3 separate regions of the Homo sapiens genome follow, and all the other regions are linked to region 2. Evidence: fine-mapped expression QTL. A gene starts in region 2. Each other region holds a variant in brackets. All regions are shown on one strand. Distances are from middle to middle. Region 1 overlaps MYO9A (myosin IXA). Region 2 holds the start of MYO9A (myosin IXA). Region 3 overlaps MYO9A (myosin IXA).

Region 1 (10,291 bases), 130 kb after region 2:
TGTACACTGCTTTAGAGGAATTGAGCATTTTGTTACTTATGTTGTGGATATTATTCATTAAATAAATTTAAACATTACTTTTAATCAAAACTTTCTCTTGTTTTACAGACATTGTCTATTGGTGTTCTTGATATTTTTGGGTTTGAAGATTATGAAAATAACAGCTTTGAACAGTTCTGTATTAATTTTGCTAATGAACGTTTACAGCACTACTTTAATCAGCATATCTTTAAATTGGAACAAGTGAGTACCTAAATATGTATACACTTGTCCCCCCATCACACATATCTTTGAGTCATATTCATAATAATTCACTTCATTTTTTCACACATTTTATTGATTTACATAGTGTTTTTATTAAATATTGAAACGTGCCTTTACAAACAAGAATAACCGAAGTAAATTGGCTTGGGAACAAATACCGTTGCCTCTTTGTTTATGTAAACTCAACTGATGGGATTAGAAATGTGAGATAAAACAGAGTAGTCTGGTAGCTTCAATTGTTTATCATAATATCAGTTGTGATATTTTACTAAAAGAGTGGAGAGCACATAATAAGCATTTTAAATCTTGTCTTTTTTTTTTTTTTTTGACTGAGTCTCGCTCTGTCGCCCAGGCTGGAGTGCAGTGGCCCAATCTCGGCTCACTGCAAGCTCCGCCTCGCGGGTTCATGCCAGCCTCCTGGCTCAGCCTCCCCGAGTAGCTGGGACTACAGGTGCCCGCCACCATGCCCGGCTAATTTTTTTGTATTTTTAGTAGAGATGGGGTTTCACTGTGTTAGCCAGGATGGTCTCGATCTCCTGACCTCGTGATCCACCCGCCTCAGCCTCCCAAAGTGCTGGGATTATAGATGTGAGCCACTGCGCCCAGCCTAAATCTTGTCTTTCAATACAAATATTGTGGTCCACATATCATTGTAAGCAGATGACAGAGGTTTTATAGTTCCCTAAATAGATTTGCTGGCTGGGCATGGTGGCTCAAGCTGACAATCCCAGCATTTTGGGAGGCCAAGGTGGGTGGATCTCTTGAGCCCAGGAGTTAGAGACCAGCCTGGGCAGCATGGCGAAACCCTGTCTGTACAAAAAATATAAAAATTAACCAGATGTGGTATTGCATGCCAGTTGTCCCAGCTACTCAGGAGACTCAGGTGGGAGGATCACCTGAGCCTGGGAGGTGTATGTTGCAGTGAGCTGTGTTTGAGCCACTGCATGCCAGACTGGGCAACAGAATGAGACTGTCTCAAAAAAAAAAAAAAATTGCTTATATATGCTTATTTGATTGCACCTTTGTTGTTTTTGCAGGGGAGTGTGTTTTTTTAGAGATGGGTCTTCTTGCTCTGTCGCCCAAGCTGAAGTACAGTGGCGTGATCTTGGCTCACTGTGTCGACCTCTGGGGCTTAAGGAGTCCCCCCACCTCAGCCACTCAAGAGCTGGGACCACAGGTGCACGTCACCACACCCAACTAATTTTTGTTTTTATTTTTTGTAGAGACAAGGTGTCACTATGTTGCCCAGACTGGTCTCAAACTCTTAGGCTCAAGCAGTCCTCCCACCTTGACCTCCCAAAGTGCTGGGATTACAGTCAGGAACTACCACTCCTGGCCTTGAATGAACCTTTGATTAAAAAGATGTGTGTGTGTGTTTTGTTTTGTTTTTATTGCTGGTGTTGATTGTTTTTTTCTTTTTTCTTTTTCTTTCACACAGGGGTTTGGAAACAATGGTGTTGATTTTTAATTGCTACCATGGGCTTGGTCACTGTGTGTAATGCTAAGTACAGTCAGTCAGTCCTCCTTATCTTTGGGTTTTACATCCAAGCATTCAACCCATGGCTGATACAAAACTACTGATACAAACCTGCATATACAGAGGGCTGACTGTACTAAGCCATTTTATATAAGAGACTTGCGCATCTGTGGATTTGGTATCCACAGGGAGTCCTGGAACCAATCCCTCGAGGATATGGAGGGCCAACTGTATGCTTGTTTGATTGCTTTGGTCTCTTAGTTCTAGGATGAGATAGAGGAGCTTAACAGAATCTCAAGTCAGTACAGAGTGTAGATACAAAGAAACTAGGTATGGAGAGACCAAGATGGGTAACTAGATATTTCTTATGAGGATCTCAAGATTGATTAAGTTAGTATAAAAAGAGTGTGCTTTTGGCTGGGAGTGGTGGCTCACACCTGTAATCCCAGCACTATGGGAGGCCGAGGTGGGCGGACGAGGTCAGGAGTTTGAGACCAGGCTGACCAACATGGTGAAACCCCATCTCTACTAAAAATACAAAAATTAGCCGTGTGTGGTGACAGGAGCCTGTAATCCCAGCTACTAAGGAGGCTGAGGCAGGAGAATCACCTGAATGTGGGCGGCGTAGGTTGCAGTGAGCCGAGATTGCGCCACTGTACTCCAGCCTGGGTGACAGAGTGAGACTCTATCTCAAAAAAAAGAGTGGGCTTTCAGTTTCCATGAAAATTATTAGTGCAAAGGGAGGGGCAAACAAAATGTGGACTTTTTCTCCAAACTAAGGTTGAAATCAGTAATAGGTTTACATTGTACCCCAGAATTTGTGTATGAGGACATAGGCAGACACAGGTTTCATCAAACTGAACTCAAGGGAAATAGTTAAGAATAGAGAATGAACAGAAAGACTACAACAGCTAGCAGGTCTACAGAAAAGAGGGAGAAAAGATCTTTATATCATCAAGTCTCCTATCATTGGATCTTGTTGCTGTCTTAGCTTTTTAAAAAAGTGCCTCTATTTTGCTTAAAGGACATAATGGCTGGTTAACAATAGCATGACAATATTAGTCCTGGCCAACTTGATGAATGCTTAAAGTTTTAAACATATAATCTGTTAGCTAGATGCTACCCTAGAGCTTTGGAAAGATATTATTTGTTATAATATTAGCTAACACTTACGAGTTATGTAGTGTTACTTATCAGTCAGTACTGTTTTTATTCTAGTTTTTCAGATGTTGTCTAAAGCCAGTATTCAAACCTTAACACTCTGGCTCTATAATATTTTCTTTTAATCAAAAGCTAAGCTGGGATTGCCATCCATGTCTATTGAATCAGTCCAAAACTCTTACATAAATCATACTAAGTTAATATTCTTTATCTCTTGCAAATAAGTACATGTGTTAGAAGGGTGAGGGAATGCATTTAGTTTTCTGGGTTCTATATTTTACAGAGCAGAACATCAGTTGCTCTGTGGATCATTAAACAGAACATTGGTTAAATTGATTTTGAAAAAGACAAACATTCTTTATTGTAAACTGAAATTATTCTTTTCTAGAAGTCTAGATTAGACAGCCAGAAGAAATGCCTTGGCCATAAACGTATTATATATAAAAATAAAAAACCTTAGAGTTTATGGAAAATGTGTTCAAAACTACTTGGAAGATGGGTGATTCTCATTTACTTGCTACCCTGAATGTCAGCATTTTGGGCAATGTGGTGCAATTATGGATCAGAATCTTGTTAAGTGTCTTATTTATATGTACCTCATTGGTAACTGGTATGAAATGGGTACTCAGTGATTACTTGTTAAGTTCAGTTGAGTATAAAATAAGTTAAGGTTAAAATTTTTAAAAAGAAGGTACAGTATCACAGGTACATTTGTAGGAAAAATCTTCAATATGATGACTGTGGTTTGGTTCTAAATTTTGTCCAAAAGGAGTACATAGGCATATAGGATGGGAGAGAGATGTAATAATTGCCATGCAGGATGTAAATGCTATAATCAGATATAAGGTAAAGTAGTTACACAAAGGATGGGGTTGATTGGAACTACCTGAAAGGCTGCAAAAATTTTCCAGGGTTGATTCTGGCATATAATTTCAAATAGTGAGCTGAAGCTCACTAGATTGTCAATGGGAAAAGATATTTTAGGCAAAGGTAACATTATACACATTGTACTTAAAACAGTGGACTTATATGTCATGCAGGGAAGATTAGAATTTTTCAGACAATGAGAAGCTATTTGAAGTATATTTAGCAGAGGACTTGAATTGAACTGAAGAGCAGTGAACTGGAAAGAAGGAGAAAAATCTATGAACTAGTTGAAGTACTGTCATGTGTCACTTAATGATGAGGATATGTTCTGAGAAATGCATCATTAGGTGATTTTGCTGTTGTATGAACATCATCCTGTATTTACACAAACCTAGTTGGTATAGCCTCCTACACACCTAGGCTATATGATATAGCCTATTGCTCCTAGGCCACAAACCTGTACAGCATGCTACACTGAATATTGTAGGCAACTGCAACACAATGGTAAGTATTTGTGTATCTAAATGTATCTAAACATAGAAAAGATACAGTAAAAATACAATATAAAAGATAAAAAATAGTACAGTTACATAGGGCACCTCCCATGATTAGAGCTTGCAGGACTGGAGGTTACTCTGGGTGAGATGTTGGGTGAGTGGTGATAAAGGCCTAGGACATTACTGTACACACACTAGTTAGACTTTATAAACACTGTACACTTAAGTTACACTAAATTTATTAATTTTTTTGTAATAAATTAACCTGAGCCTACTGTAATGTTTTTACTTTATAAACTTTTTTAACTTTTTGACTTTTGTAGTAGCCATTTAAA[A/G]CACAAACACATTGTACAGCTGTACAAAAATGTTTTCTCTTTATATAATTATAAGCCCTCTTTCTATTAAAATTTTTTAAAACTTTAAAAACTTTTTTGTTAAAAGCAAAGACACATACATACATGTTAGCATGTATACATACATATTACCATAGCATATTAGCATAGGCCTACACAGGGTCAGGATCAAGACGTCAGTAGATAATATGAATTTTTCGTGAGATTAGGGATCCCTGTTGTATATGCAGTTGGTTCTTGACTGAAATGTGTTTGTGTGGCACATGACTGTAGAATGGGTGAGTGATTCTGAACTGAATCAAGGTAGTGGTAGAGACTGTAATGTAGACTAAGAGACAGACCCAAAGAGGTTTCTGATATTTGAAAGTACAGCCATCCCTGGGTATCCACAGGGGATTGGTTTCAGGACCCCCTGCTGAAGAATACCAAAATCCACAGATGCTCAAGTCCCTTATGTAAAATGGCATAGTATTTGCACATAACCTATGCACATTCTCCAGTATACTTTAGATCATCTCTCAGTTTCTTATACTTAATACACTGTAAATGGTATGTAAATAGTTGCTATACTGTTTCTAAGTTTATATTTTTTGCATTTTTTTCTCTAAATATTTTTGATATGTGGTCGGTTGGATCTACAAATGTGGAAACTTTTGCAGATATGGAGGGCCAATTGTATGTTTTCTGTTACTTGTATTACTGCCCTCTTTTTTCTTTTCCTTACTTGCTGAGAATTACTCTTCATTTGATTGATTCATCAGTAAATTGAACAACAGTTGTGTGCCAGGCAGTGTGCTAAGCATAGAAGATAGAAAATTTAGAGTGCAGGGATCTTATTTGAGGAGCTCATAATCTAGCAAGTTTTTGTTTCATCCATTTTACTTGTTGTTGTCAGACTAGAAACTTTTGATGAACCTTACCTTGGAGAACAACCAAAAAACTTCAACAACATATATTTGAAGGCATTGGAGTACCTTCAAATAAGTTTTACAGGGCCTAGACTATAAGAAAGAAATCTAGGGAAGTGAGCCCAGCATTTGGGTGCTGCTTTGTTCCTAGAGACATTTCGTTATTTTTGTAGTGTTTCTGATTCTAAAAGGGCCAGGCTTGAGAGTATGAGGAATTGAGCAGGGTTTTCTTCTGACTCAAAAATAAGGAGGAGGCCCTTGGTAATTCCTATAGGCTTTAGGTTGAGATCCCTAAAGGGTTACATCTCAGACAAAAGTAAATCAGAAGTAAACCTGGCATCAGAAGGACTGAAGCCCAGTTTAAAATCATCTCAGTTCCCAATTAGGTTAAAATACAATTTGTAGTATTCTTAACCACCTGCCAAGAGCAAATACAATCTCCACCAGAAGAAGACATCATCCAACTGCTAAAATTATCTTTATAATTTTTCATATACAGGATCTAACACTCAGTCCAAAACAGAGAGAGAGAGAGACAGACAGAGACATAAAGACATACATGGAGGCAAACCAGCATGAATAAAAACCACGAGAAATGTGGCCGGGCATGGTGGCTCACGTCTGTAATCCCAGCACTTTAGGGGGCTGAGGCAGGTGGATCACTTGAGGTCAGGAGTTCAAGACCAGCCTGGTCAACATGGTGAAACCCCATCTTTACTAAAAATACAAAAATTAGCTGGGCTTGGTGGCACATGCCTGTAATCCCAGCTATACAAGAGGCTGAGGGAGGAGAATTGCTTGAACCCAGGAGGCGGAGGTTGCAGTGAGCTGAGTTTGTACCACTGCACTGCAGCCTGAGTGACAGAGTGAGATTGCGTCTCAACAACAACAACAAAATATCCCAAGAGAAATGAGATAATAATACCACAGTGGATCCAGCCAATGATATTAGCACTAGACATGGACTGGAAACTAACCATGCTTTCAAGAAATTTTAAAAAATAAGGTGCAATATTTTTATTAAAGAACTACAAATTACTTTTAAAAATCCCAAATTGGGGAAAACCTAGAACTAAAAAGTACTGTGAAATTGAAAAGACACAGATGGTTTTTAATAGTAAGATACAGGTTAGTAAAATTAGTAAATTGGAAGATAGACCAGAAGAAAATACTGAGCCTAATGAATGAAGATAAGAAAGAGACTTATACTCTAAGAGCATAGTAAAAAGGTCTAACATGTGCCATAGGAATTTTGGAAAGATGTGTATGAGAGACGTAGAATAAGTTAGAAGCCGTGTTTGAAGACATAATGGTTGAGAATGTTCCAAAACTGTCAAAACAAAAAAACAAACCCAACAAGCATACATTTGAAAAGCTCTTTAAGAATCCAAGGCATGTTAAATACAAAGATATTTATACCTAGAAAATTATACTAAACCAAAGACAATGAAAAAAGTCTAAAAAGCAGCTAGAGGAAACCAGAGACTACAGTTGCTCCTTGCCAAGCTGAAAATATTTTAAGTCAAAAATGCATTTAATGCATCTAAACTACCAAGCATCATAACTTGACATAGCCTACCTTAAATGTGCAGGACATTAAATGTGCTCAGAACACTTACATTAGCCTACAGTTGGGCAAAATCATCTAACACAATACCTATTTTATAGTAAAAATGTTGAATATCTCATGTACCACATATCACCAGCCTAGGCAAAGATAAAGTCTGCAGAAATTATGACAGTTTCACCCCATTGTAAAGTTGAATCATCGTAAGTCAGGGACATCTCTATCTTTAAAGATACAACAATAAGACTTGGCAGTCAGCCTTTCAGTGGAAATAGTGGAAGCTAGGAGACAATGGCATATTTTCCTTAAAACCAAGGTATATTGTTTAGGCAGCAAGTTGTTTCCTATTGTAGCTCAGGTACAGGAAGGAATGAAGAGCAATGAAAATTATAAAAAAGTCGTTGAATCTAAATGAATATTAATGAGGCAAAGTTAAAAATAACTTTTATGGCTTAAATAGAACTATTTAGGCTGGGCGTGGTGGCTCACGCCTGTAATCCCAGCACTTTGGGAGGCTGAGGCAGGTGGATCACCTGAGGTCAGGAGTGTGAGACCAGCCTGGCCAACATGGTGAAACCCCGACTCTACTAAAACTACAAAAATTAGCAGGGCGTGGTGGCAGCCGCCTGCAATCCCAGCTACTCAGGAGGCTGAGGCAGGAGAATTGCTTGTAGCTGGGAAGGGTTCGCGGAAGTTCCAGTGAGCTGAGATCACGCTATTGCACTCCATCCTGGGTGACAGAGCGAGACTCCATCTCAAAAAAAAAAAAAAAAAAAAAAAAGAAATAAAAAAAATAAAAAACTATTTAATGTTTAAATGTAACTAAAATACATGACAGTAATAGCATATAAGTTAGGAGTAAATAGAATTTAAGATACTCTAAGATCTTTGTATTAAATGCTAAGTTACAGAGATATTATTTCTGTTAGTGATAAGTTAAGGATACATGTTTTCTAGAATTGCCAAAAATAGTAAAATAATATAAAACTTGAAAAAAAATACAGAGGATAAGTAAAATAAGAACACTCAATCCAGAAGAAAGCAAGAAATAAAAGGAATGCCATGAAAGTCAAAGAACAAGTAGTAAGGTGTTTGATTTAATCTCACAAATATTAGTGATTACATTAAATATAATTGATTCATTGCTCTAACTAGAAGCTAAAGATTGTCAGACTAGATATAATACAAAACTAAACTGATTGTTGCTTATGAGAGACATTTTAAATATAAGTATATAGAAAGATTAAAAGGATGAGCAAAGATTTAGTAAACCTTAAGAAAAAAAGCAGTTGTAGCTATATTAATATCATATTTCAAGCATTACTAGAGATAAAAAGGAATATTTAATAATGTTACCCTTTAGCATTATTCACTTCCTTGGGAAGTAGTATACAGTCCAAAATTTATAAGCACCTGATAGCAGAACCTCAAAATATATAAAGCAATAATGAATAAAACTCAAAAAAGAAAAATATATTTACCATCATAGTGGAATGTTTTAACATACCATGCTGACTTGCTGATAGAATAAGTGTTCAAAAAGTTGGTAAGGATACAGAAGATTTAAAATATCTAGAAGATGAGATTAGTGCCTTTGTGGGCATCCATCACTGACTGTCCTTCAGAGCAGAATGTCAGTTTCCTGCCCTTAGGCCTGAAACCTAATCAATTAAGGATATAGAAGATTTAAAAATCAAATATATAACTGATATGCATAGAACACTGCATCAACAGCTGCAGAATGCACTTTTTTTTCAAGTTTGCGTGGGATATTTACAAAATTTGTTTATATCCTGGACCATAAAGCGAAAGTCAGATTTCCAAGGATTGAAATGACACAGATTTTAATACCATAATAAAATTATACCTGAAATCAGTAACTAAAAAATAACTGAAAAATACCTATATGATTAAAAATTAAGAAATATTCTAGGCTGGGCACGGTGGCTCACGCCTGTAATCCCAGCACTTTGGGAGGCTGAGGTGGGCAGATCACGAGGTCAGGATATCGAGACCATCCTGGCTAACACGGTGAAACCCCGTCTTTACTAAAAATACAAAAAAGTTAGCCAGGCATGGTGGCAGGCCCCTGTAGTCCCAGCTACTCAGGAGGGTGAGGCAGGAGAATGGTGTGAACCCGCGAGGCGGAGCTTGCAGTGAGCTGAGATTGGGCCACTGCACTCCAGCCTGGGCGACAGAGTGAGACTCTGTCCCAAAAAAAAAAAAAAAAAAAAAAAAAAAAAAAATTCTAAATAGGCTAGAGGTTGAACAATTAGAAAATATATTGTACCTAATGACACGTTACATATTAAAACTATGGGAAATGCCTAAAGCTATACTTAGAAGAACATTTCATAGCTCTTAGAAGATTTTTGTTTAAAATCAGTGATCCCTGTCAACAGTTGGGAAAAAGATCAGCAAACTAAACCAGAGGAAAGTAGAGAAAATGAAATAATAGAGATAAAAGAGGAAATTAATAAAAGTGTGAAAACAAATATACCATGGGAGAGGATCAACCAAACCAAAAGTAATACTTTGAAAGGGCTAATAATATTGATGAACCCCTCAAGGAATTCATCTGAGAGAGAGAGAGAGAGAGAGAGAGAGAGACAAGACAGAGAGAGGGATATAAATAACCAAAATCCCAGTGATAGAGGGTATTACTCTGGATCCTACACATATTAAAAAGATAGACACACTGAATAACTTTATGTTAATAGACTTGTCAAATGATACGAACAAAAGAGCTTTTCAAAACTGACATAGAAGAAATAGAAAATCTGTTTCTATAACTATTAATGACATTGAATATGTAATTTAAAACCTTTCCCTGAAGAACATTGCAAGCCATGGTGGCTCCACGGGTAAATTATACCAACATGGAAAGAAGAAAGAGTGTCAGTCTGACATAAGCTGTTAGGTGGAATAGAAAAAAGGACAATTCTCAGTACATTTTAGGGGGCCAGGATAACAATGATACACACATCTGTTAAGGATATTAGAAGTGGAAATTATAGGTCAGTTTCACTCATAAACACAGATACAAAAATTCTAAACAAACATTAATAAAATCCATCAATATGTACAAAAGGATAATACATTGTAACCAAAGGGAGATTTTTTTTTCAGCATGTGCTTTACATTTAACTGAATCAAGCCATTTAATCATCTGTTAATAAATAAGGAGAAAACACAGT
Region 2 (10,291 bases):
CAGGTGACTTTTTAGGATTTCATCTAACACCAAGGCTCTCCATTTATTGCTCTGTAACTAGGCACAGCTATCAATGGCTAAGGTGTCATTGACCATGAAAATAATTTTATTCCTGGTCTACCATTTCTACCTCAAGAGTTCCATTTGTAGGCTGGGTGCGGTGGCTCATGCCTGTAATCCCAGCACTTTGGGAGGCCAAGGCGGGTGGATCACCTGAGGTCGGGCGTTCTAGATCAGCCTGACCAACATGGAGAAACCCTGTCTCTACTAAAAATACAAAATTAGCCAGGCGTGGTAGTGTACAACTGTAATCCTAGCTACTCGGGAGGCTGAGGCAGGAGAATTGCTTGAACCCAGGAGGTGGCGGTTGTGGTGAGCCAAGAGCACGCCACTGCACTCCAGCCTGGGGAACAAGAGCAAAACTCCATCACAAAAAAAAAAAAAAAAGTTCCATTTGTAATTGTGTCACAGTTTTTGTCCTCAATATAAACCTGGTGTATACCAAGTTTTTCTTGTGGTGACTTTGTTTTGCTTCAAATTTTCTGAGAAATGACTTTACACAATTGCAAACTTTGAAATGACTAGGAGTGAGGGTCAGGTGTGGAGAGGCCATTAGAATTAATAAGACGTCTGTGTAAGATAATATTTTATAAAGGTGTAGACAGAACTTTATTTTAGTACATGTGGTAACAAAGTCTGATAAGGAGTGGTTAAAGCCATGATTTACCTCATTTCACAGATAATCACTGTGGTCAGCACATGGCAGCTCTATGCAAACACACTATTTGAAAGAACACAAAAAAGCTATGATCTTTTAATCTCATTTGTTCTAAGGATTTCAAATCCTGGCAAGTTATTTTTTTCATAGATAGTTAAGAGGTAAATTGTCATTACAAATTGCTCATTAGTGGGTTTCAAAAATGTGCCTGGCACATAGTAGAGGTTCAATAAATATCTAATGAATTAATGAGTAATGAATCACACGACTTTGAGAGTTTTATTCATTGGCCATCAGGGAAAGCAAGCCTAAGGTTTTCAAACAATAATACAGATGCTCAAAATAGTAACTATAGTTGGGACAAATTTTTTGGGATCAAGACAATGATCCAGTGCTTTTATAAGTTGATTGTGGAGTAAGCCATTTAATTGGGAGCCAGAGAAAGGAACTTTCAGAAATTTTCTGTAAGTAATAAAAATTATTAAAAAGCCTCATAAAAGTATTATTTCTGATTTCAGATAGACCCACTCCTCCTCCTCCCGCAAAAGGTGTCAGATAGCTGAACCTCAAGTTCTGCATAAACTTAATTCTTCCTATCACCACCCAAATGGCCTCCAATTATTTGATGGACAGAAAGTCAATATAGGCTAGTTATGTTGAAGAAGGTGGTAATGGTGGCCTCTCTGAGAACCTAGTTCTGGAAGTTAATTTTATAGGACTCATTTGGATCAGTAATACCTAAACCCCAAATTCAATTTTTTAGAATACATTTAAAAAGTACATACTTTGGGTACTAGCTGGATTTGAGCAGTAAGTTTCTATAGTCCGGTATTGATCAGTTTCAAAGGAGATGGGTTGCCTGGGCCTTGAGGACTTCACATTCTTTTGCTAATGTGTTTAAACTAAACTTCTTTCCCATCCAAGAAGTTTAAGGAATTGGCAAAAAGAGAGGAGTTCTGACTTTTAAAAGTCAGAAATGTAGGACTCACAGGTATAGACAGGTATATAGACAGTACATACTTTGGGTACTAGCTGGATTTGAGCAGTAAGTTTTTATAGTCCGGTATTGATCAGTTTCAAAGGAGATGGGTTGCCTGGGCCTTGAGGACCTCCCATTCTTTTGCTAATGTGTTTAAACTAAACTTCTTTCCCATCCAAGAAGTTTAAGGAATTGGCAAAAAGAGAGGAGTTCTGACTTTTAAAAGACAGAAATGTAGGACTCACAGGTATAGACAGGTTCTGACTTTTAAAAGTCAGAAATGTAGGACTCACAGGTATAGATGGAGTTTGACTGAGGAAGGCCTTGGCAAGATCTGTGAACTTATGGTAAGGCCATTGCTTTATTAGAAGTACTAACAATATCATTTATAATACAAAAGACTGGGCTAGCCTCTTGACCACATAAAGTTAACTGACTCCCACACTGGGGTATATATTCCTGTTGACAGGTATGCCATTTATTCCAATGTATGTTACTCTAGACTGGTCAGCACATTGTGGAAATAAAGGAATTTAGCAGACTCTAGAGATCACCTCAAGATTTTTTTTGGAGACAGGCTCTCTGTCACTCAGGCTGGAGTGCAGTGGCATGAACACTGCAGCCTCGACCTCCTGGGCTCATGTAATCCTCCTGCTTCAGTCTCCCGTGTAGATGGGACCACAGGCAGGCACCACTATGTCTGGCTAATTTTCTTTTTTTTTTTTTGGAGAGACACGGTCTCACTTTGTTGCCCAGGCTGGTCTTGAACTCCTGGGCTCAAGTGATCCTCCTGCCTCAGCCTCCCCAAGTGCTGGGATTACAGGCCTGAGCCACTGCACCTGGCCCAAGATTCCATTTTTCAAAAATTAATTAACTTATTGTTCTAGTCTCTTCATTCCTATCTTCTCTTTTGATAATCTAACCTGCACATTATTCTAGATTTTCAAACAGAACTCTAATCACATTATTCTACTCCAAAAAATTTTAACAACCCTCCATTGTCTACCAAAGTAACTACAAATTACAGCCTGGCATTCAATGATTTCCACAAAAATAGCCCCAATCTACCTTTCCTGATTTATTTTCTGGTATTACTCTCACAGACATATACACCCACAAGCTCAGTCCCTCTGCAGGCCCTGGTTATTAGGAAACAGTGGGATAGTACTGGTTGCTGCCCCAGAGCCAGCCTCTCATCCCAGCAGAGAGGTTGGGAAGTGAACACTGCTTCATCATTTTTCTGAAACACAGATTTGATGTCATGCTCTTGCTTAAAACCATTATACTGAGATATTTTAAAACTTAGGATCCATAGACCAGGATGTGGCTAGAATATCAGGGTTCTGTGAACTTAGACTGGGAAAACAATTGCATCTTTGTTTTCAATAATCAGTAGCTGAAATTTAGCATTTCTTCAATAAGTGTGGACCACAAACTACAATATTAGCACTCTCTTTTTTACCAATAGAAATCTGATATTTTCACATCACATTAAAGTTGCTGCAGGCATTTCAAAATATAATTTATAGTCATCACTACTTAGAAATTATATAATTAGACCTGCTGCCAGATTTTATTTAATGCATAAAGTGCATATATATCACACATTTGTTTTAATATTTTAAAAACTTAACAAAATTAGTTTCCTTTATATTACTACGTATTCTATTTTATATATTTAAGAACATTTTTCTGAGACTGAATCTATAAGGTGGACTGCCAACAAGGTCCACTGGGTAAAAGAGGTTAAGAACCTTTTTTGTACTTATTAATTACTTCTAGTAATATAATCTAAACTCTTCACCATGGAATTCAAGGCTCCTCATAATCTGTTCACACCCACTTTATCATCTTCATCTCTGTCCCACCTCTACTCTCCATACTATGCTCTAGCCATACTAGACAACAATAACTCGTTCTTATCTGGGTCTGATAGACAGGTTTTTGGATTAACCCTAGTTAATAGATAGCAGCCATACACTGTCTTGGTCTTTACCTCATACAGCTTCTCTGCCTGCCAAGTGAATTCTTTGTTTAAAGGCCTGCTTTCCCTAATACGGTAATTTTCCATCCTAATTGAGCTGTATTTTAAATATCTTTATATCTCATTACTAACTTAAATGATAAATAATAGAAAAAGATTCTAAATTGGCAAGGCACTGTATGTAGTAATCTCTATGAGAGTGGATGTTGGTCTTTGCATCTCATAAATTGGCTTAGCTCTGGATGTTGGTCTCTGCATCTCATAAATTGGCTTAGCTCTGATCATTTTGGGGACAGAAGTGGGGATGGCCTTTGAGCTTTAAGGCTGGAGACAACAGCTGACCAATCCTGGACGGAAGGGAACGGGAGAGCAAAGAGACAAGTAACTAATTTGGACCTGATAAACACTGAGGAATGAACAGTGCTGAAGAGAAAGGCAAGAGTGGCTCCTTCTCCCATTTCCCAGACCAGTTATTCCAAACATAACGCCGCTCAAGTTTCTCATTCCATCTCCAAGCCTCTCTGTAGTTAAATGACCTCCATCTTTTTTTTCTGGGGGCGGGGACGGAGTCTCGCTCTGTCACCCAGGCTGGAGTGCAGTGGCGCGATCTTGGCTCACTGCAAGCTCCGCCTTCCGGGTTCATGCCATTCTCCTGCCTTGGCCTCCCGAGTAGCTGGGACTACAGGCGCCTGCTACCACGCCCGGCTAATTTTTTGTATATTTAGTAGAGACGAGGTTTCACCATGTTGGCCTGGATGGTCTCGATCTCTTGACCTCGTGATCCACCCGCCTCGGCCTCCCAAAGTGCTGGGATTACAGGCGTGAGCCACCGCGCCCGGCTAAATGACCTCCATCTTAATGTTACAGAGCCAACTGTCTCAACTTCCTTCTCTCTAGTTTAGTGAGTCTCAATCTTTAGCATTAGAGTCACCTGTGGAGCTTTAAAACAGTAATGACACCTGGCACAACCCAGAATTTAATTGGTCTAGAGTGGGGCAACAGTATTGGTTTTATTTAACAAAAAGTTTCCCAGGTGATTCAAATGCACATACAAGGTTGCGTTCCACTAGTGATCTTGATCTTATAAATTAGCCTCCCTCACCCTCGAAGAGGCCACTTCTCGGTTTCATGGTACGCTTTTGAGTCTTCTACCTAAACAGAAAACATTCCTGAGGGCCATATTCTCGTTCCTCATTTCTCTAACTTTATAACGATGCTTCTTTAAAGGGAAGTCTACACTAGTACGGTTTCCATCAGGTTTATTTTACTTCTTTTTTCTCTTTCAGACCACCACTGTCACATGCTCTTGCGCCCGTTATTCTGCTTTTACCTCCTTTCGTATTTCTTTGACCAGGTACTGGATTACTAGTCTTTTAACACAGTCCTCTAAAAGTGACCCAAAAGTCACCCTGGAAAGGGCTTCCTCACGTTATCCTCCTACACAACCTGGGACCCCTCTTCTGTGCGCAGACAGCATCCCGTGCATTTTTCTCTATTGTCACTTTATTGTACTACCACTGCGGATTCTCTCACGGTCTCCTATACAAAAGCACTTCAAAAAGCTGACACCACTTAATTCGCCTCTGACATTCTGGAACCCAAGGCATGGAAACCACTCAGTGAAAAGTCTGAGAAATGAATGGAAACGGAGGTCGGGGCGGGGACAATGGAGGGGGCAGTGGGTGGAGAGAGCGTGCGTGTTTGAAAAGGGGCGGGGGCTATGACCGGCGGCGCTGAGAATCCAGGTCCAGAATCGGGAGGGAGCACGGATACGCCAGAATCTGAGTGGGTGGGAGAGCGATCCACTGCCGAGACAAACCGAAGTGGGGAGGAGGCTTCTTACCTGCCTCGGGCCTCACCACCCCAACCAGCCTTCAGGCACCTCTGTGTTGGCCGGAAAGCGACAGCTACGGTCGCAAACTCAGAGGTTTCGTCCCCAACCTTGCGACATCCCTTTCCAGTACAGGGAGAATCTAAAGCTGAGTTCCCTGCTCTGCCGTAAGGTGAAGAAGAAAAAATTTGGGCGGGGCCGCCTGGGGCGTAGGAAAGGGGGCGTGTCTGCGCAAGCGCACGCTGTACTCTCCAGTGGCGTCACGTGCGGGGGCGGGACAGGGCGGGGCCGACCCGTGCTGGCAGTAGGGGGCGTGGGAGGTAAGTGCGCGCGCGCCTGCTCGCCTGCAGCCGGGGAGTCGCGCGGGGCGGGGCCGCGTGCGCGGGGTCGGGGGCGCGCGACCGAAGCGGATAAGGGACGCGGCGGCGGTTGGCTGTGTCTGTTGAGAGAGTACAGGACAGCCCGGACTGCGAGAGGCGGCGGCGGAGGCAGTAGTTGCACCGGCAGAGGCGGCCGCTGGCAGCGGTTGAGGCGGCGGTCCAACGCGTGCTCTCTGGGCGGGGTGCGGCGGGGGATGTGCCTGCTCAGGCCGGGCGGAGTCTCTCTGACAGGGCGGGGGATGCGCCGCGGCCGCTCGCCCGGACCCTGAGGCTGCTGGGCCCACCCTCCCGGAACCGTCCGACCCTCGGTGGCCTCGGCCTCTTCTGCCATCTCCGGTCCTACCCTGGGGCGGAGGGTGGAAGGCAGCTTCCGTCGAAGAGGAGGGGGCTGCGGTGGCCACCGCGGCGGAGCCCGAGGTAAGACCCGCCCAAGCGCCCAGCGGCCCTGCAGCCCGTCCTGGCCCACGTCTCAGCCTCGCTATTTGGCTCCGGTCGGGCCGCCCCGCCCCGTCCCAGCGGAGACGCCCCGCGAGCGGGTCTGCGCCGAGCCTCCCAAACACCAGATCACGGCCCCGGATCCCCAGTAGACCCCACCCCCTGTATCTTCCATTGGCCGGGCACCATTCCGGCCCTCCAGCCTCCCCGGAGATTCTGTCACGGTCCCCCCAACCCAGCAGACCCCATTAGTACCCCTCAGAGTCCCTTAGGACTCTTAATGGAGCTTCTAGACTACGTTACATCCTCCCTTGGGCTGACGTGATTACAGTTCTCAGGCAAAGTCTCGACCGCCCCCTAACCCATTGCGTCCCCCATGTGCCCCTCGCCCTACTCTTCTTAGTAGAACCCCTCCCAGCTCGCTCATCACCAAGCCGACTAGCACTAACCCTAGCCATCACGGCTTTCAGATAGCCGCTGTCATGGTGTTCTTACTCCCGGTAGATGTGGTGTCAGTCCCTCTAGACACCGTCACAGACTTTGGCTTCTCTCCCACCACCGACTGTAGCCTCTCTCAACAGACCTCTCCTCAAGCAAACCTTGTTATCTTTCTCCTTAGTCGCGATCCTTTCTTTGGTTGAAAGGGCTTTGCCATGAAATCCTGAGGGAATATTTGCTTAGCCTAATGTATTCCCTCCATTGTGGCTTAAGGGGACCGACCGAGACCCATGTTTGGAGGGGTTGGGCTGAAAAAAGTGGGAGGCAGAGTGAAGTTATGGAAGCATGAGGCCAGTTGTGTGTGTGCCATTATAAGGTCACAGAGCCTGCACCTCGTCTTGTCTGTTCTGTGTAGAACGTGTGAGGTTGTCCAGCACTGATGTTTTAGGGACCTCTGTAAGGATTAAATCACGTTGCACTAGTGGATATAACTATGTCGTCTTGTAGTATTACTTCACCTCCTTGTCGATTGCTGCAGATACTAGAACTGTTTCTTATTTTTATTTTTAAAGGATACTAGGGGACTTTTTTTGGATTCACTGTTTTTTGGATTTGCTAGAAAAATAAGATTTGTAGCATTCCTTAATCCCTGAATGCTTCGATGTCGGTTTAATAATAAACTTCTGTTGCCTGGTGCTGCTGTCTTGCTTCTCCAAGAAGCAAGTACAGAAATCATGCAGTGTTCACTGAGGTCATTACCAACAACAGCCTTCTCAATAGCAGTAAAATGTTGAATAAAATGTTTGTAGAAGTTGAGCTCCTGAGTTGTCAAGAAAGAAATGTAATGTTGCATCAAATGATCAGTACGTAATTTTAATATTGGTATAAAGATGAAATATAAAGAGGTCTTTGTAGTCATACACACACACACAGTAAAAAATGTTAAAGTAACAGGAGAAAATCACATTAAAATTATAGATAATAACTAGACGTAAAAGCCAAAAGTTTCGGAAGAGTAATGTAGTAAAAATTTCTGTTCCGCCTTCACTCTCCAGCCACCCATTTTTCCTCTTTAGAGGCAACCACTATTTCCAGCTTCATGTGTATCCTTTCTGTGATATTTCCAATATATAAACCTACACATTTATATTTTTAAGACACTGTACACAAATGGTTGCATACTTTACATTCTATACATAGCCTGTTTTTTTTACTTAATACTACATCCTAGAGGTCATTTCTTAACAATACATATGGAAGTGCCTCATTTACTGGCTGGATAGTATTCCATTTTTGTGGACTGGAGGTTATTTTTGGTGTTTTGCTTTTACCAACAATGTTACATGCTTTTCTTTTAAATGTGTCTGATGTTATATGTATGTTTAAATAATTTTGTGAGTTGAAAAAAATTCCTGATGATTCTTTTATGTTGAACCTACAGAAAGGATGTAACTAAATTTCTCATTGAACCTCTGAGCTTCCACAGTGTGACTAGCTGTGATGATGATTATAATATTTATTAAATTATTGAAGGATTTTAAAGCAGGGGACTGGAATGATCAGATTTGCATTTTAAAAAAGTCATTCTGGCTGCAGTGAATTGAAGAGTAGAATAAGACTAAAGGCCAGGAATATTAGGGTTATCCAGGCAAATGGTGAGACTGGATCTGAACTTGGATATTCGGAGTTGAGTTGGTGATTTTATTGTATTTGGGGTTGGGGAGAAGTTGCATACAGGATAAAATCTAGGTTTCTGGCTTGTGCCTTTCACTGAGGTGGGGATTCCCATGAAGGAGTGGGATTTTGTTTTTATTTTGTCAAGGAGGAAGGATAGAGGGGTTAATTTGTGACATGTTCAGTTTAGGTGACTGTAGTTCTGTCAGATGTAGATGACCATTAGGCATTTGGATTTGTGGCTGAAGCTCAGTATCAGGTTCTGGGTTGATAGCAGTAGATTTTGGAGGCAAAATCATACAGAAGGGAGGAGAAAAGGTTTTAGGATGGAAACCCAACATTTAAATTACAGGTAGAGTTGAATATTTAAATTAGTAAATTACATGATTAAGTGCCTTTAAAAAACTTATTCTAGTTTAAGCATTAACAGTGAGATTCACTATCTAATATATGAATTTTTAACAGTTGTTTTCCCTTAGTTATTTTAGTAGTATATAGTTCCTGAGGGAAATTGGGTAAACTTAGATTTTTTTTAACAAGTACCTCAATAGAAGTTAGCGATATAAACTCCATCTTTCCTAATCATTTGGATTATACTATGTGGAAGTTTGTTCAGTCTTTAATAGCAGAGAAATGTAGGAGGTTTGAAAATATGATTTGCCAAGAATATTAAGGTTTTTAGTTGGAGTGATTTTTGGTTATGTTAACTCAGTTTGAAATAAATATTAGTCAAAGACTTTTCAGACATTTTAAAAACCACAATATTGACTTAATGTATTGATTCCTAAGTCTAGAACTGCTGTCTAGAGTGCTTGCCTTTGCTCTAGACCCCTGTAAAAGCACTGCCTAATGGATATCACCACTTTGATTCACATTTCACAAACACTTCAATCCAAACATTTAGGAAACAAAACTCTTCCTGCCTCTTTTCCCCCCACAAAAACAGTGGAGAGAGAGCCGGAGACAGAAACTGCAACAAAATTTTTTCTTCCCCCCGATTTCCTACCTTGATTAATGGCACCACTCTTTCCTCATGAAACCTTCAGGAACCTGGGAATTGCCCTCCGCTTCACTCTGTACTTCACTGCCAACATCCAGTCTGTCACTGCCTTGTACATTTTCCCTCATGATATTTCAGGTCATTCCTTATTACTTTTTGTTGCCTCTATCTTATTTTAACTGAAAATATCTGTTTGTTGGGCTTCTGTAATGCTGAGTGGTCTTCTTGCCTTCTGTCTTCTGCCTCTTGTCATGCCCTCCTGTTCATTCTCTTGACTGCTGTTGGAGTAAGTATTCTAAAATGCTCTTTTAGTCAGGCTCTTTCACTTGGAGGGAAGAGACTCAAGTTACCTTAAGTAATGAAGTGCTTATTGAAAGGAACCATACACAAGGGAACCCAGGAAAAGTTAACTTGCTCTCAAGAAGAAAAAGAACCTAATAAAACTTGCTCTCAAGAAGAACAAGAACCTAATAAAGCTGGAGACCCCACTCCAGTGCTCCATTGTTAGCTTGTCCTAGATACCGTTTCTTTCTTCAGTTTTTTTCCCCCTATGTCATAGCTTCCATTTATTACTAATTTCTGCTCCTTATAACTACTATGTGACCCCCATGCCAACATCTTGCCTCCTGGCTGCAATTGTTTTAAAACGTTTTAAAAGAGGTTAGCTCCTGTTGCTAACCTCTTCCTTTTCCCTAGGATTTTCTGGTTTGAATTCCAGATTTGGCTCAGCTCTTTTTCTCATTGATTGCTAACAAGTCTGTGTACTTAGGTTATGTCACCACTCTTGGCCATTTATTGTTGGCTGTGTGTTTGTATGTATATATGGGTATCAGGAAAGATCTTAATGGTGGA
Region 3 (10,291 bases), 300 kb after region 2:
AGAGGTAGCTGGGTGACCGTGATGAAGAAGGGAGACTAGAGAATACGACAACTGAAGATGGCATAAGCTTCAAAGGACAGAAAAGATCAATCAGTGTTTTTCTTCGTCTAGAGGTCTCTGTGGTGAAGATAGAGGGTATCGTCTATAGCCAGTTAGTAAGCTTCATGGAAAATAGTTTAAGAGCTGGAAGGAATCTTAGAGGTTATCTAGTTTAATCTCTTTGTTTTGTGGTAGGAAGCTGAGGTCCAGAAGAGAAAGGTACTTTCCTGATGCATTATGGATATTATGAACAAGGTTAGAGCCCTGATCTCCTGCTTATCAGTCCAGAGTTCATTTTACTGAAAGATCTCACCACTACATCTTTCTTCACCCTACCCTTACCCCTATTATTGGTCCTAGATTGGCTATCTGTCATTTTGTCCTTTAGTCCATATAGTTTTAGCCTTCACCATATTTGGCATACAGGTCCTCATCACCACCTGGATGGGGACAGTAAAAATGGACTCTCTTTGCTTCTTAGATTCCTGACTTCCATGGAGGATCTTTTTTTCTGTTATCTTCCTTCCACTTCCTATCAAATGCTAATGGTTTCTTGATTGTGTCTTACAGGGAGGAGCTAACATTTGAGATGCTTGTACTGGAACCCCGTGCCTCTGATGATGAAACCCTTGAGTCTGAGGCCTCCATTGGGACTGCTGATAGCTCAGAGAATTTGAATATGGAGTCTGAATATGCTATCTCTGAGAAATCAGGTAAGTGAACATGGTAGACCAAAGACTCCAGATTTGTTTTGCAAAGGAGGAATAAAGATTCCAAAACTAAGACAAAGTCTTTTAAGAATTTACTGACTGTACATCAGCAATAACAAAGTCTTGAGGAATTTTGTCCTTTTATCCATATAATTTTAGCCTTCATCGTTTGGCATACAGGTAGTGACCTGGATGGGGATAAGAAATATAAGGGGATAAGAAATATAATTGTCTTTGCTACTTAGATTCCTGACTTCCACGGAAGGTCTTTTTTTTCCTGTTGTCTTTGTAAAGCTTCCATATACATTGTTTATCAAACCAACTCTTCAACGTGATTGAGTTTTTTGTTTTTTGTTTTGTTTTGTTTTGTTTTTTGGTAATTTAATGTTTTATCCTGTACTTACCACAGAGAAAAGCCAATAATCACAATATATGTTGTCTTACTGACCCATAACCCATTTTCTGAGGGTGGCAGGCATTGTGCCCCCACTGTGAGGTGGGACTATATACATATACAAAGGAGGTGTTTAACTGGGTGGCATGTCTCAGGGAGATGTAGGACTTACCTGCATATCCTGGCAGTTTTTGAAATGATAGTGACTGTTCTAGGCCTCCGCTGATGGCATAGTCAAACACCAGATTTCCTTGGAGATGATTCGGAAATGCTACATAGAGAAATGGATGGTGAGCTCTTACTGTGACTGTGCCCATAGTAAGTCATCCTGGACCCTCTGAATCTTATCCCACCCAATTTCATGTGTGAACAGTGGCATCTATTCATTATATGATGATTTGCTTTAGAGGGCACTGTCATTTACATCTTTGGTCTCTTTTTTGCATTAGAAAGAAGCTTAGCCCTTAGCTCCCTGAAGACAGCTGGCAAGTCTGAACCTTCCAGCAAGTTGCGAAAGCAACTTAAAAAGCAGCAAGACTCTTTAGATGTCGTGGACTCTTCGGTCTCCTCTTTATGTCTGTCTAACACGGCATCATCTCATGGGACCAGAAAACTATTTCAGATTTATTCCAAATCTCCATTCTACCGAGCTGCCTCAGGTAATGAGGCCCTGGGAATGGAAGGACCATTGGGCCAGACCAAATTCCTGGAAGACAAGCCTCAGTTCATCAGCAGAGGAACCTTCAACCCGGAAAAGGGCAAACAAAAATTAAAGAATGTGAAAAACTCACCTCAGAAAACCAAAGAGACCCCAGAGGGGACAGTCATGTCTGGCCGCAGAAAAACTGTGGACCCAGACTGCACCTCCAACCAACAGCTAGCACTCTTTGGAAATAATGAATTTATGGTCTGAACCGGCAGATGTGTGTCCCTCCGTGGCTACAGAGTGGTAAACAAATCTCACCTTTGGGGCTGCGTTTCATCACCTCGTCCACAATAGTCAATCCTAATTGTGGTCCTGCCTCTTTTCTAAGCATATGGCTAAGACTGTATGTGCTGAATTCCTGGGCCTCCTGCAGAAGCAGAAAGCCTGCTGGGGATGGTGCCAGCTGTGCCTTGGCTGTTGTATTTGAATTGAGATTTTTACTATACAAAGCCACCTAGGGCCTGGGGATTTGGGTCAGTTGTAGTTGCCTCTCCCCCACCCTCTTTTCCCTTCCCAAAGGTGGGTGTTGAACTAGGGGGGATATTGCTGTCCTGAGGGACCCTCTCATTTCTGACATTTGAAGAAAACGTATAAATCTTTCTTAACCGTGAAAGCAAAAGCCTTTGGGTTTATTTTGGGATAGTTAGGAGCTAGGGTAGAATATAATTTTTTTCCAAAAACTTACTTACAAACAAAAAGCCTAATCCCTCTATTTTAAGATTTCTGAAAAAACACTCCATGTTATATTCTGGGGAAAGCAAAAACAAAAAAAAAAAACAAAAAAAAA[AAAACAAAAAAAAAC/C]CGTGATTGTTTCCATTAAGCCATCAGAGCGTGTCTCAGATATCTTGTTATACAGTGAAGAAGAGAATACCTATTTTTTTTGATGATGTTTGATGTCATAGTAATCAGTGCTGGTTTAACTCCTGTTTAGTTCCTGCCAAATACATTGCATGGGCTGAAGTGTCAGTAGCCATACTGTTCTCATGTTTCTTGGTCCTAGGATCAGATTCTTCTACATTATTTTTTAGTTTCCCAGAGACATGGTGATCCCTAAACTTATGAAGGTTTCATCCTAAGCCATTCAGGCTTTTCTCTTTGTATAGATTAAACCGAAAACCGCATATGAGCCTGTTCATCTGCTGGTGGATTCCCACCACAGACTCAGACTCAAACAAACAAACAAATAATGTGACCGTTTAGTTAGTTTCCAAAAACATTCACATACAATATTGCATGAATAAGTAAGTAAGTGTTACAGAAAGCTGCCAAAAAATAAAAAGGTTTTTAATATGACCTATCTAACTAACTAACTTTTATCTTCCTTTTCTCAGACTATCAGTATTAAATAGATGGAAAAAAATCAAGGACTACTTGAAGCTATTTTTGTTAATATTCTGGTTACTGAAGTTTATTGTAAATATGTATGTATAGTAGGCATATTTCTTTTTAACCTTGTGCTTCCCTCCTTCCCATGGAATTTCTTCCCACAGATGAGGGGCCACTGGACAGGGGGATGAGAGCCATTCGTCCCTGGGTTGAGGGAATTAGTAAGACATCATTTTCACCACTGGGTGGTCTTCATACACATGAGTTATAATAGCATTTTAAGTATCTTAGCATTTGTGGGATTAGAAATCTGTTTTTGCTATTTATAATATATAAAAAATGAAACATGATAGCCTTTCTTGAGATAAGTATGTGAAATGTTTATTTTTAAAGTTACTAAATGCATCTTGTCTTGCTACTACATGCACTGCTCTGAAAAAGAGCCTTTACCATCTATAACCTGTATTTTGGGTATTCTTCCTTTTCATACTTCTTTGAAGTTGTGGAAATATTAAGTCTTTTGTTAAGGCAGAGTCTCTCTCTCCTGTTACACAACACTGAACCTCACGCCACTGCCTCAGTGGTTATTGGCCAGCCCCAGAGGTTAGACTTGGAGCATAATTCTGAGTGGCAGCTAAAGGTAGCAGGAGTCTTACCTCTCCCTACTTTGGGTTCAGAATTGAGCCAGAGAAAGGAAGCCATTAAAATCTCCAGAATAATGATAGTTAATGAGCAAATGTTATGCTTTATATCCCACAGACATCTGCCACCTTGTTCATCTTGTCCTGAGGAGTAATAAATAATGTTAAGCTTTTAAAAATCTGAATTTCAGAGAATCTCCTAGAGGATAGAGGAAAACCCCTCAGCATGGTGTGTTAGAGTGGGATTGCTGGTTCCTCAGCCCCGTGCCAGGTTGCACAGTCTGTGTTTCAGTGTTCTTGGGAGAGTAGTGTACTGCTGGGCATTAATTGTTACTCTGCACTTGCTCCAGAATGTTGGTTAAATCCTGTATGAAAAAAAGAGATTGCCCTTATGGAATAATTTCCTGTGGCCCAGAGGAATGGCCAGAAGAACATATGTTGGCACATGTTCTTCCTTCTAAATCTTTGTGGGGCTTTTTTGGCAAAATAAGTTTTTTGGCAGTTAAAAAACGACTGATGTAGGTCACTTTAAAGGAACTAGGTGATGGATGTTAAGAGACTTTATAATTTTTCTCAGGGACCTGAAACTCCAGTTTGGATAAAATTCAATTAAAAAAACTTGTTTTTTCAGTTGCTAGATTTGTGGATTTCTAGTAATTTAATCTGCCAGGATTGGGGTGGGTGGGTGAGGAGGAGAGAGCCACAAAATGATAAGAGTGGAGAGCAGTGTGGGGCCCTCCCTTTGAGGGAAAGCCGTTGTTTACATAGGGTAGTAGGCCTTGTTGGCCTGATCAAGAGATGAAGCCATAACTCTTAAAAACCTTCAGAACCAAACGCTGTGTCTGCATCCATCTGTTCTCACTGGCCCTCTGCATGGTAAAGTTATGTCACCACAAAGTGATGCCGCATTACAATCACTTATGAAACTGTTAGCCCTTAATATGCATCACATTTGTGGTTCCATAGTGCTTCTCCTTTGCTTGTTTGATCTCTGCATGGCAGCAGTGGGGCAGCTCCACATTTGGAGCCCATACTCCAAAATGCAGAGCACTCTTCTCACAGCACACATTCCCAGCCCCAAACAAAACCTGAATTTTCAACTCTGCCCATTAAAGTGAATGTATCCCTGTAATTTAGTATGTACTTATTATGGAAAATGTAACAAAAGCAGAGAAGTGTGATTTCATTCTGTATCACAAATTGAAGCAAATCAACAGCAAATACAGCAGGATTCAGGGAGGCTTAGTTTACAACGTACTTTGTACCTCCTGCCATTTAAATTATTTTGCCACTCTGGGCTTCTGAAAACACAAAGGGAGATACAGCCCTCCAACTATGAGCCTTGCAGAGAGAGACAAAAGGGCCAGAGGTCCTGGGATGGAATACTAGAGCCCCCACCTTCTCATGCTTTGGAAACCTGCCAGAGCACTTACCCTGCTGGAAGATTAATGAAGACTCCATTCTGTGTTTCATAACAGTAGCGTTGTTTTCTCCATCAAAAACAGAGGGTCACAGAAATGTGCTGAAAAGATGTGGTCCAGCAAGGTTCTGTAGTCCCACCTCAGTGCCTGTGGGCTGTGTTTTTCACTGTAACAAGCACTTTGGTAAACTAGAAAGAAGAAAGGATTCTCAGGATGTGTTCAAAGCTAAGAGAGTTTTCATTTTAAAAAGAAACATACATACTCACTCCATGGCTTTCCTCATCCTCCTCTCTTTTTTCTTCTTGGTGGGAAGCTGGATGCGGGGCATGCATCATTCTGTATGGACAAATGTGTTATGTCCACCCATACTCTTGTGACAACTCCCCAGCACTGTCCTGCAATACCATGCTGGCCTTGGTAGTAAAACTCCTTGGTATCTGTGAGAGTCCTCTTTTTCTATGCCCTAGACTACTTTTAACCACTTTTCTCTGGAATGACTCCCACATTTGATTGGGTATTGAAAGGGTAACAGCAAAATGATGATTGTGGAGATGGATCTATTAGGTCTCATGTTGGTCCCCTGGTTGAAACTATTTTCAAAAAAGCCCCAACAATGGGCCTGTCACCTTGCTAGTCATCCATTCTTAATGCCTATTTATCAGCCCTCTGAGGTCATATAAAAGTTGCACCTTTTGAACCAAGTATTTGTATTTACTATGGGAAAGGTGTGGACTACAGATTCGTATTATATTATTTTAATGGATTTTAAGTAATTTATAAGTATGCTGAGTGTAAATTTTTTTTAAAAACTGTATTATAAAAGGACATATCCTGTGAAATATAACATTTTACTGTTTAATAGAATAATTCTATAAGAAGAATGATTTATCTCACCCACGGAACTGATTACATTCCGGATGCAATCAATAGGCACTTTGTAATTTCCTTTTTGTTTTTTTTTCTTTGCTGGGGGGTTGAGGGGTAACAAGATACCATCTGTATAAAGTGCAGTTTGTGTCACTCAAAATATGCACTGTATGGCTACACAAAAGCAGCTTGATGAACAAATCACCCCATGGCTCATTAAAGAACAAAGCTTCCAGAAGCAGCAATATGTGTGGTTTGTTTTCCAACCATCCTGGCTCCCACTCCAACTATTCCAACCCAACTCCAAGAAACAGCAGTGACTTCTTAGTTACACTGATGTGTTTTCAGGAAAGGACTCAACCCAAAGTTGACAAAGCACAGAGGTGGTAGTCACTGGAACTCAACTGAATTCAAGTGAAGGTGTGATTCAAGGTGTCGTTTTTTCTGTAGTGGATGCAGGCTGCTGGCTGTCAAGACTTCATTTAATCGGTTTAAGGCTAGAAGGGAGGAAAAGCAGTAAATCTGCATTTAGGATCCTCCCCTAAATTGGCCACTTGAAGAAGTTGCTAATAGAGGTTGCCAATAGAGGGCCCAAGGATTCTCACTGAAATTCAAAGCAACACATTGCAATAGGAACAGAAATTTTAACTCAGTTTGTCATTTTTGTTCTGCTACCAACTTTACTGCATGTCTGGGAAAGGCATTCGCTCTCTCTGAATGTTAGTTTTCTTATCTGGAAGTCAGTTCTGTTTCCCAAACTCCCAGCTTTGGAGAACTCCTACTGACTCGCAGGTTTTAGTATAAAAGGTAGTTGTCCTAGGAAGTTTGCTCTGACCCTGTGAATTGGGTTAGAGGTCTGTGTTCTCAACAGCTCTCAGTTTTCACAGCGTCAAACACTTACCTGTCTTGCTGACTCTTAGATCCCAGCACCTAATAAAAGGTGCTGGCTAGGCAGATATTGGATGAGAGGATTGACTAGGATCAGTGGTTCCAAAATGCCAAATCAGGTCTGAGGTTACATGGGGAAAAAAACATGTCCCTAATGCCAAATGTATTCAATTTTTAAAATTCTGGGGTCATCCTTCTCACTTGTTTTTACGTTACATTTACATTTTCATTTTTGCATTAAATTTATATTACATTGAAATATGAAGTGTTAATTGTTTAAAATTCCCTTAGTTGCCCAAATAAAACCTAGAAATACCATTTTTATTTATTTTTATTTTTTTGAGATGGAGTCTCACTCTGTCACCCAGGCTGGAGTGCAGTGGCACAATCTCGGCTCACCGCAACTCCCACCTCCCAGGTTCAAGTGATTCTCCTGCCTCAGCCTCCCAAGTAGCTGGGACTACAGGTGCCTGCCACCATGCCTGGCTAATTTTTGTATTTTTAGTAGAGACGGTGTTTCACCATGTTGGCCAGGCTAGTCTCAAACTCCTGACCTCAGGTGATCTGCCTGCCTCGGCCTCCCAAAGTGCTGGGATTGCAGGTGTGAGCCACCACACCCAGCCGAAATACATTCTTAAAACTTGCCCCTGAGATGATTACTGAGAAGACAACTATTGTGATTATGAAGACCTGAGAACAGAAAGGTATATAAGGAGAGGCAAGTTATAAAGTGACCACAGCTTTGGTTTGGTTTGTTTTTTAAATTGCTTTTGCCCCTAGAATGGGTGGCAGTACAGTGTCTTAGAGCCAGAGATATAAACATGAAAGTAGATAAAGTACATGTAATATCTGACTGTTGAATCTTGTAGGTATCTCAGACTCACAGTCAAGGAGTGTGTCACTTCCAGGTAGTGCCCACAGGCATTGTCCTAGGTGCTTAGGGTACATTAGTGAACAAAACAAAGATCTCTGCCCTGTGGAGCCTGCATTCTAGTGGGGAACACCAGTGATGTCCACCAGATAGAGACTAGTCATCCATGATACCTGGGTTTGACTATGAGGTTGCGCTTCTTGGCATCTTTGAGTCTTTCCCTGCCCTTCCTACCTTGAAATATCCCCTTGTGGGTAGAGGAGTGTCTCGTGAATCTAAAAACTAGCTTTATTTGAAAAGAAAGGCCCAGATAGTCCCACAGGGACTACCTCTGTGGTGCTTCATAGCCAAAGATATTTCTGGCATTGAGGGGGAAAAAAAAAAGCTTTCAAATTATCTACCCTCCTAATAAGGACCCTAAATGCAATGGAAAAGCCATTACTCATCAGAATTTCTGTAGAGCCAATCTACAACAAGAAGTTGAATAATGGCTGCCATCATCCTAGGTGGTTTACAAACAGGAGTTTGTATTCTTGTCTGTAAGACATGCTGAGAGCTGTACCAGGTTAGGAGAACAGAGGCCACTTTGTATTCCAGGTGAGATGGACTTAATACAGAAATTAGGATCTAACAAAGGTCAGAGATATTCCCACAGGTCAAGAAAGCCAACGCAAATCTCAGCTACAAGTTCCAGAGGAGTTCTCAAGAGCTTGCCTGGAAGCTAGTGCAATTCTAGCCAGGAGGCTGCTATGAAATCTATTTTCCCACGACAGGGCTGCAGTGTCTCCAAAGAAAAATGGCTTCTCTTTTTCCTAATGCCAAATTTAATCAGTTTGGCATTAGGGGGGAAAAAATCTCCTGTGAGTGTCTTTCATTAGCAAATCCTAGGGGAAAGGGTTTCTGGGAAATGTAGTTCCTTCCTGGCATCTCTGCAGTGAAGAAAAGCCCTTAGAAGTGGGGGAGGGGTGGTATTGATGCCCGATTGACAGCAGACAATCCAGCTTATGTACTTCCTCTAATTCTCCAAGACTTCTTGGAGAGCCCTCAAATCTCCTTCCCAATGTAGATGTGCTGGGCTCACACATCCCAGATGCTAGCCTGTGAACTTCAGCAGGCTACCTTTGCAGTCTTACCATGTCCTCCAAAGCCAAACTGTAAGATACATACGCAGGGCTGGTCATGTCATATTTCAACCATGTGTCTTACTAAGGTGGCTTTGCTCAGGGCTTAGCTCATATGGATAAAACTTTTGATAGGGAATTGGACTGTATAATGGCATTATAGACATTAGTTGACCGATTAACTGAGGCCACTCTGATACTTTGAAAAGTTGGAGAGAATCTGAAGTAGCCTAGGGGCTGAAGTAAGAAGGGCTTCAGCTGGGCAGCATTTGCCATACTCTTTCCTCTCTGGCACCAGCCCTAGCGGTTCTGAGTTCCTGAGTAGATAGGGCATTTCTGTCAGCTAAGGGAATTCAAACACAAGCCAAAGGACAGGGAACCCCTAGGATTTCTCAGCCTTCTCACATGACCCTTTCTGTCTTGATTTCAAACACTTATCCTTTGAAGGCAGAAAATGCAACAGAATTGTTCAGTCTTTCATTCCAAAAGTGAAGGGGAAGTTGGGAAAGAGGCGGTGCCAAAGTTAAGCAGCATTAGGTAGAGTCACACCAAGGTTTGAGTCCTCTCTAAGCATCAGTTTTTTCACTTATAAATGGAGAAAATTGGCTCTTCCCTCAGAGTTAATCTGCGGATTAAATGGCAATTTAAAAAGTGCCCGGCTCACTGCCTGCTATTAATATATACATTGCCTGATCTATGTTAACATGTTAAAATATTATTTTCACAGTCATCTGGGTCTATCTTCAAAAAGGATTAGGTTCACACCTGTAATCCCAGCACTTTGGGAGGCCAAGGTGGGTGGATCACCTGAGGTCGGGAGCTCTAGACCAGCCTGGCCAACATGGAGAAACCCCGTCTCTACTGAAAATACAAAATTAGCTGGGTATGGTGGTGCATACCTGTAATCTCAGCTACTCGGGAGGCCGAGGCAGGAGAATCACTTATACCCGGGAGGCGGAGGTTGTCGTGAGCCAAGATTGCGCCATTGCACTCCAACCTGTGCAACAAGAGCAAAACTCAGTCTCAAAAAAAGAAAAAAGAGAAAAAGAAAATGATGAAGTTTGTCTGAGCTGTATCTTTCCATAAGGACCTGAGAAGTGATGAAGAGTCCCTTTCACAAAACGTACCTGTAGCTGCCTTATGTTGAGTTGGAAGGTGTTCTTTACTTAGGAAGGAGATGAGGCAGGAGATAGGAGATAAAGGTTGAGAGATGCTGCGGATGATGGGATGCCATCTGGAGAGAAGCTGGGTGGTTGAATTCTATGGGAGATTTTCCACTGGGCTTGAATTCATTGCGCCTGGTCTCT

Evidence for each region.
Region 1: its variant is fine-mapped to the expression of MYO9A in whole blood (INTERVAL, PIP above 0.99).
Region 3: its variant is fine-mapped to the expression of MYO9A in whole blood (INTERVAL, PIP above 0.99).

What each region holds. Positions count from the first base shown.
Region 1 is chr15:71,981,055-71,991,345 of GRCh38, reverse strand. MYO9A (myosin IXA) reads left to right here. Exons shown (of 42, transcript NM_006901.4): 11 at 109-243. It also overlaps a transcript of MYO9A-AS1 not described here. Among named protein-coding and RNA genes, the nearest start is that of MYO9A-AS1, 7.2 kb to the left of the region's middle. The variant A/G (reference allele first, on the strand shown) is at 4,602.
Region 2 is chr15:72,113,698-72,123,988 of GRCh38, reverse strand. MYO9A (myosin IXA) reads left to right here and starts at 5,839. Exons shown (of 42, transcript NM_006901.4): 1 at 5,839-6,309. SENP8 (SUMO peptidase family member, NEDD8 specific) reads right to left here and starts at 5,586. Exons shown (of 2, transcript NM_145204.4): 1 at 5,525-5,586. RefSeq lists a silencer at 5,718-6,487 and an enhancer at 6,688-6,897.
Region 3 is chr15:71,818,345-71,828,635 of GRCh38, reverse strand. It overlaps MYO9A (myosin IXA), which reads left to right. Exons shown (of 42, transcript NM_006901.4): 41 at 610-752; 42 at 1,593-6,345. The coding sequence ends at 2,056. Among named protein-coding and RNA genes, the nearest start is that of NR2E3, 13 kb to the right of the region's middle. The variant AAAACAAAAAAAAAC/C (reference allele first, on the strand shown) is at 2,637.